2 linked regions of the Homo sapiens genome follow. The protein of the gene in region 2 purifies or fractionates together with the protein of the main gene of each other region. This does not show direct contact. Each region holds a gene or a part of one and is shown on either strand. Other genes may lie near its edges.

The links.
Region 1: the proteins of NOA1 (region 2) and ATE1 purify together in Homo sapiens (co-immunoprecipitation; 2 studies listed by BioGRID and IntAct, with this or other methods). This does not show direct contact.

The regions. Positions count from the first base shown.
Region 1 is NC_000010.11:121,914,287-121,918,203, forward strand, and holds part of ATE1 (arginyl-tRNA--protein transferase 1), read right to left. Parts: intron 1-3,917. UniProt on the Homo sapiens protein: Involved in the post-translational conjugation of arginine to the N-terminal aspartate or glutamate of a protein. This arginylation is required for degradation of the protein via the ubiquitin pathway. Does not arginylate cysteine residues.
Region 2 is NC_000004.12:56,963,711-56,967,627, forward strand, and holds part of NOA1 (nitric oxide-associated protein 1), read right to left. Parts: intron 3,027-3,917; coding exon 2,910-3,026; intron 817-2,909; coding exon 696-816; intron 1-695. UniProt on the Homo sapiens protein: Involved in regulation of mitochondrial protein translation and respiration. Plays a role in mitochondria-mediated cell death. May act as a scaffolding protein or stabilizer of respiratory chain supercomplexes. Binds GTP.

The sequences.
Region 1 (3,917 bases), on a different chromosome or scaffold from region 2:
AAACTCCTGAACTCGTGATCCACCTGCCTCGGCCTCCCAAAATGCTGGGATTACGTGCATGAGCCACCATTCCCAGCAAGAGATTTTTTTTTTTTTTAAAGAGAGAAAGACATAAAACACTAGAAAAAAGAGAAGGACAGAAGTGTTAGAAGCTGGAAAACAGATATACAAAGCAATGCTGTTTTAACAGACCAAAGAAAGTTGAATCCTAGGCCAACAGTGGAAAAAAAAAAAGCCAATTTTCTCTATATTACCCTTAAAAGTCTTAGGGATTGGTGACACCTCATAGCTCTGGAAATATGAGTGAAAGTTAGGTCTAAAAATAGAAAGATCCCTTCAAAGTCTTGTTTTCGAAGCAGTTAGGATAGATGTCAGATCCCCTCTCCCATCCGCAGATGACTAGACGACTCCCTACTCAACCCAGCAGAAAACTGCAAACTTGCAGGAAAGAGTAACATAGAGCCTCTTACAGGATGGATGCAAGCCACAGCTGAAAGCAGCGGTACTACTGAAAACGGCTTAAATAAAAGTGTACACAGTACATGTTGAGATCACCAACCCAGGTCCAGAACAACAGCAGGTTATGAAATACTTTCTCTCCAGAATGTGATCAGACCTAAAAATACTAACATCAGGGATTCCCCAACAGAAGAGCCCAGCCAGATCACCCACAGTAAACAAGGCCGAGAAACACCCAAGACCCACAGTAAACCAAACCCATCAGGTACACGGAATTTCCAATGGAACACTGAAAAGTCAGAATCACCAGACACTCGAGAAGAGCCTCCACTGAAAAGATAGGTACCGAACAAACTGGAGAAAGTAACCTGGAGGACATAGACCATGACAGAAAGAAGAGAACCTTTTAAAAAAATCCTTAGGAAGATCTCGTTTATTAAGCCACTACATCCATAAAATAACAAGGTGTTATTAAATAAACAAATAAGAGTCTGAGAACAAAAACAACTTCAAAAGTAAAAATATGACAGGAGAAATGTAAAAATTAAGTAGAAGACCTGAAAACTGAAGTTGAAGAAACCTTCCAGAAGATTCTGCAAAAAAGATGAAAAACTGAAGAGAAAAGGTAAAGTCAGAGACTAGTTTAAAAGGTCCAAAATCTAAATAAAGGCATTAAAAAAGAAAATGGAGGTGAAAAGATAGAATAAAAAATTTAAGAAAATTCCCCTGAACTAAAGGATAAGATGGGACGAGCCCCCAGATAAGAAGGGCCCCTCCAGTTTGTCTGTGATGGATAAAAACAGACACATAGCCAAACTGACTATGAAATGTAGAACAGAGGATAGAAAAGCTTCCTAAGAGAGGCCGGGCGCCGTGGCTCACACCTGTAATCCCAGCACTTTGGGAGGCCGAGGCAGGCGGATCACGAGGTCAGGAGATCGAGACTATCCTGGCTAACATGGTGAAACCCTGTCTCTAATAAAAATACAAAAAAAATTAGCCAGGCGTGGTGGCGGGCACCTGTAGTTCCAGCTACTTGGGAGGCTGAGGCAGGAGAATGGCATGAACCTGGGAGGCAGAGCTTGCAGTGAGCCAAGATCACACCACTGCACTCCAGCCTGGGCAACAGAGTGAGACTCCATCTCAAAAAAAAAACAAAACAAAACAAAACAAAAAAAAACAAGAAAAAGAGAAGAAAAGAAAAGCTTCGGCCAGGCACAGTGGCTCATGCCTGTAATATCAGCACTTTGGGAGGCCGAGGCGGGCAGATCACAAGGTCAGGAGATGGAGACCACCCTGGCTAACAAGGTGAAACCCCGTCTCTACAAAAAATTAGCCGGGCGTGGTGGCAGGCACCTGTAGTCCCAGCTACTCAGGAGGCTGAGGCAGGAGAATGGCATGAACCCAGGAGGCGGAGCTTGCAGTGAGCAGAGATCACACCACTGCACTCCAGCCTGGGAAACAGAGCGAGACTCTGCCTCGAAAAACAAAAAACAACAACAAAAAAAAGGAACACTTCCAAAGAGAAAGAACACGTCTCAGACAAAGGTATGAGGATCAGAATATCACCGCACTTCTCAACAGTAATAATACGATAGTGGAACAAAATTCTAGAAAAATTATTTTCATCCTGCACTTCTGTACCCTCCCAAACTAAAGTTTGAGCAGTGAATCAAAGTTTGCAGACACACAAGGTCTCAAAAATGTAACTCTTATGCACTTTCTCTATTAGAAGATGTGCTTCACTAAAACAAGGGAATAATCCAAGAAAGAAGGGTTTCCAACTCAGGTGCTAAAAAGAATCCCCAGGCCGGGCGCGGTGGCTCACGCTTGCAATCCCAACACTTTGGGAGGCTGAGGCAGGTGGATCACGAGGTCAGGAGATCAACACCATCCTGGCTAACACGGTGAAACCCCGTCTCTACTGAAAATACAAAAAATTAGCCAGGTATGGTGGCACATGCCTGTAGTCCCAGCTACTCGGGAGGCTAAGGCAGGAGAATCACTTGAACCTGGGAGGCAGAGGGAGCAGTGAGCCAAGATCGCGCCACTGCACTCCAGCCTGGGCAACAAAACGAGACTCCGTCTCAAACAAAAAAAAAAAATCCCCAAGATGACAGTAAAAAGAATAGCCCAGGCCACATATGGTGGCTCATGCCTGTAATCCCTGCACTTTGGGAGGCCGAGGTGGGTGGATCATGTGAGGTATGGAGTTCGAGACCAGCCTGGCCAACATGATGAAACCCCATCTCTACTAAAAATACAAAACTTAGCCAGGCATAGTGGTGGGCGCCTGTAATCCCAGCTACTCAGGAGGCTGAGGCAGGAAAATCACTTGAGCCCAAGGGTGGAGGTTGCAGTGAACTGAGATTGTGCCAGTACACTCCAGCCTGGGCAACAACAGCAAAACTCCATCTCAAAAAAAAAAATAGCCCAGGCTGACCGTGATGCTTCAGGTGCAGGGGGTAACCTGTTCAGATCAAGCCGGTCAGAAGGCTCCACAAGGGACTTTTCTCAAGTAGATAAAAGCGATCATAGCACTTGATGCGTTTAAATATACTAAGAAAAAACTTACATAACTGGGATTTATTTTCAAAATAATCTGGTCATAGTTATATACACTATGCAAACAAAAAAGATAATTAGTAACTCCAAGGAAAGCAAAAACTTGTGCAGGAAAAGTAATCACAGTACCCGCCATGGTTCAGTTGTGAAGCATATTTACACAGTCACAATGGATATGAACACATCTGCCCAAAATCACACTTCTGAATGGAAAGCTAGGGATGGGGACAAAAACGAGCTTGAATGTGGCAGGGAAACAGGGATAAGAGAAAACTAAATCCTTATCTTCCACAGAGAGAAGCCCGGAAATAATGGAGAAAACTAACAGAAAAAGAAAAAAAATGCAAGTGTTACAATTATATAAGCATGTTGCTTAAAGACAGGGAGATGAAAAACCAAAAGAATTAGTTAAAATGTTTCAAGATGACTGCCTTAGGGGAACAGGAAATGGGACAGGGGGGTTGGGGGATTGCTTTTTCCAAAACAAACTTTATTGCAACTTGACATTTAATGAGCATGTGGAATTCTGATAAAAATAAAAAACTTAAAAAATCATAGCCAGAAAAGTTCATCCTCATTTATACACACATACTGGAGAGTCCCTACTGACTAACAAGAAGCTAAGCTGTTAGCTATAAGCCCCTTTCCTTTATCTAAGTTCTCATTGCAACTGCTGTTATATACAAGGTAAAAATAACCAGAAGAGTAAATATGGAAAATGACTCCATAAAAAGATGATGTGGCTGGGCCCAGTGGCTCAACGCCTGTAATCCCAGCACTTTGGGAGGCCAAGGCAGGCGGATCATGAGGTCAGGAGTTCCAGACCAACCTGGCCAATATGGTGAAACCCCGTCTCTACTAAAAATACAAAAATTAGCAGGGCATGGTGGCAT
Region 2 (3,917 bases):
TAAAAATACCAAACCAAAGCTGAAAATGGACTATCAGAGAACGCTGTCACTCTCTTTCACTCTCTTATTATTTTATTATTTTTTAAGAAACTGCGTCTTGCTATGTTACCCAGGCTGAACTCAAGTTCCTGGGCTCAAGCGATCGTACTGCCTCGGCGTCCCGAGAAGCTGGGGGCACAGGTGGACACACCTTAGTTTTAAAAAAGCATACAATGCGTTTGTGCAAAGTACAAATTTATTTTCAGAATAGGTTGTATTTTATGAATAAACTAGTATGTACACCTTAAAATAATCAGCTTTCATCAGTTAAGGCACTTTTCTATAAAAAAAATTGTCGGTAAGGCTGCTTTATTCACTTTTTGTTTTTTTTTTTTGAGATGGAGTTTGGCTCTTGTTGCCCAGGCTGGAGTGCAATGGCATGATCTAGGCTCACCGCAACCTCCGCCTCCTGGGTTCAAGCGATTCTCCTGCCTCAGCCTCCCGAGTAGCTGGAATTACAGGCATGCGCCACCATGCCCGGCTAATTTTGTACTTTTAGTAGAGACGGGGTTTCTCCATGTTGGTCAGGTTGGTCTCAAACTCCCGACCTCAGGTGATCCGCCCACCTCGGCCTCACAAAGTGCTGGGATTACAGGTGTGAGCCACCGTGCCTGCCCTTTTATTCACTTTTTAAAAAGTGCTTGGCATAAAATTACCTGCAGAGGAAAACTTGATGTCGGCCACTGCTTCAGATGCCCCCAGTCCTTCTTTTAACATAATGTCTTCAGCAACAAGAGGAGGAAATCCTGCCATTCGTTCTTTTCCACCCATTGGAATCTTCCAATGAAATAAAGATATTTACAAGTTCAAATTAAATTTCTTGGAACTCTAACATTAAGCAAATCACTGATAAGATAATTCTGTACAGGGATCAAGAATAAAATCCTTTCAAATATTCAACTGTTGAAAAGAACTTGCAATCACTTCTGGGGTCAAATGAAAAGCAAGGGAACTCTGTGATGGGATGAAGCTTACAAATCTCAGGGCTCTGGGCCACACATTGGGCAAGCACCTGGCAGAAGCCTCTGGACAGGAGAATTGTGCTTCACTGACACTGTTTTTAGAATCCTCCACAGGGCCTCACATAGATTAATGTTGGGCAATTAAGGCACGGTCCTTCTAAGTACCTTAGTTCTTATAGGTGTGGCCATCAGGATTAATGCCTGGTCTTTATGAGTTAAGGGTCCATATATAATGGATAAGATTTAGCTTTTATGTTTACAGGTGTTTCCACGATTAGAAGTAATTGAGTAATTTTTTTTTTTTTGAGATGGAGTTTTGCTCTTGCTGCCCAAGCTGGAGTGTAATGGCACGATATCAGCTCACTGCAACCTCCGCCTCCAAGGCTCAAGTGATTCTCTTGTCTCAGCCTCCCGAGTAACTGGGATTACAGGCGCGCACCACCATACCAGGCCAATTTTTTTGTATTTTTAGTAGAAACAGGGTTTCACCATGTTAGCCAGGCTGGTCTCAAACTCCTGACCTCAAGGTGATCTGCCCACCTCGGCCTCCCAAAGTGCTGGGATTACAGGTGTGAGCCACTGCGCTTGGCTGTAACTGGGTAATTTATTCATCTATTCATTAGCAAATCTCTCCTGTGTTTAGCACTAAGAACACAAAGATAGATTTTGCAGTATGGTTTCTGCCCCCAAGGAAATCAAAGGGGTAGATAATATGTAAGCTAATACAAGGTCAGAAATGTAATGTGAGGCATCTATAAGTACTATGGTTGTGAAGGAAGGAGTAATGAATGTGTTCAGTCAAGGAAAACATTAGTAAAGAAGCTATATATATATAACAAAAACAAGCAATATATGAGCAATATTTTGAGAAATGAGTCAAAGTTATTTGGTGGAAAGATATTTTCGGTCGCCACAGGTACAGATAAAAACTGGAAAAAGGATGATGAGTTCGGGGAACTATAGCTTAATTGTCCAAAGTATGGTGTGTGTGTGTGTGTGTGTGTGTGTGTGTGTGTATTGGTGATGAGGCTGTCAGGAGTTTATACAACTTTTTGCAACAATGTCACTATTGGGCACTCAAAATGTGGCTGGTGACACTAAGCAACCATATTTTAAATTTTCCCTTTTTTTTTTTTTTTTTTAGAGACAGGGTTTCACTCTGTCACCCAGGCTAGAGTGCAGTGGCATAATCATGGCTCACCACAGCCTCATACTCCTGGGCTCAAGTGGTCCTCCTGCCTTAACCTCTCGAGGAGCTGGGATTACAGGTGCATGCCACCATACCTGGCTAACTTGAGCAAATTTTCTTTTTTTTTTTTTTTTTTTTTTGAGATGGAGTCTCTGTTGCCCAGGCTGGAGTGCAGTAGCGCAGTAGCGCGATCTTGGCTCACTGCAACCTCTGCCGCTCTGGTTCAAGTGATTCTCCTGCCTCAGCCTTCTGAGTGGCTGGGATTACAGGCACCCATCACCACGCCTGGCTAATTTTTGTATTTTTAGTAGAGATGGGGTTTCACCATCTTGGCCAGGCTGGTCTTGAACTCCTGACCTTGTGATCCATCTGCCTTGGCCTCCCAAAGTGCTGGGATTATAGGCGTGAGCCACCACACCTGGCCACTGAGCAAATTTTAATTGTCACTAATATATTTAAACTTAGCCACATGTGGGCTAATGGCTACCAAATTGGACAGTGTAGTCTAGAGAAAAAAATAGCTGTGTGGCTATTCTAGGATCAGTCTATATAGAGCAATTTTGCTTTATAGCCAGAATTCTCAAAGAGAATGAGGTGAGGGAAAGCTAGCTCAAGATATTGTATAACAGTTCTGTACAACAAAGGCTTTCTTAACAGAGCTATGGGACCATCCCAGTGTATACTAACCATAACCATGCAATCAAGGCATGTTGCCTTACCTGGAGTAACGTATGACCTGCATGCTTCTGATACAGAGCGTCTGCCCTGTCCAAGGAGGTGATATGCACAGGGAGGATGTTGGAAGCCACGACTGTAAACCAAGCTGACTGATTTCCCTTAAGAAAGGAAGAAGTTATCTGACCTGGTGAAAAACTTGGAAAACCTGCATATTCAAGGTACAATCAACTAAAAAAAAAACAAACCAAAAAACAAAAACCCAATCAGACTCCCTTTATAAGTACTGGTATGGCAGTAGCTGTAAATCAAATTATTACTAAGAACAGGGGCACAATACTGAAGCAGTGCATTTCAGCAATTCATGTGAAACTATGACTTCTTTGACAGACCCAATACTATTTTTGAAAAAAGTCTATTATTAAAAATTAAAAGGAAATACTATCTGCTTTAATTGTCTCTGTGTAAAGTTAGGTTTAAAATATTAACATTTTATGTGTTCTGATGAAATATATAAGGGTGCAAGCCTGGTGTGGTGGCTCATGCCTATAATCCCAGCATTTTGGAAGGCCGAGGTGGGTGAATCCCTTGAGCTCAAGTTTGAGACCAGCCTGGGAAACATGGCAAAACCCTGTCTCTATAAAAAATACAAAAATTAGCTGGGTGTGGTGATGTGTGCCTGTAGTCCCGACTACTTGCGGGGCTGGGGTGGGATGATCATTGGAGCCCAGGAGGTTGAGGCCACAGTGAGCCGTGACTGTACCACTGCACTCCAGTCTGGGCAACAGAGAGAGATGCTGTTTCAAAAAAAAAAAACAAAAAAACAAAAAAACAAAAAACCAACCCCAAAAGCAAAAAACCAACAACCTCCCAAAACGAAATATATAAGGGTTCTAAGTGTGTAAGGCAAAATTTCTAACAAAGTATGAGCAAACACAAAACCCAAGAAATGTGCTATAGTAATGGCACACAGTTGTATTGTGTTGTTGGACATATCCATATCCATGTTTCATTTTCCTTTTTCTCTTCACTTTAGCAAAATGGAGAGCAAT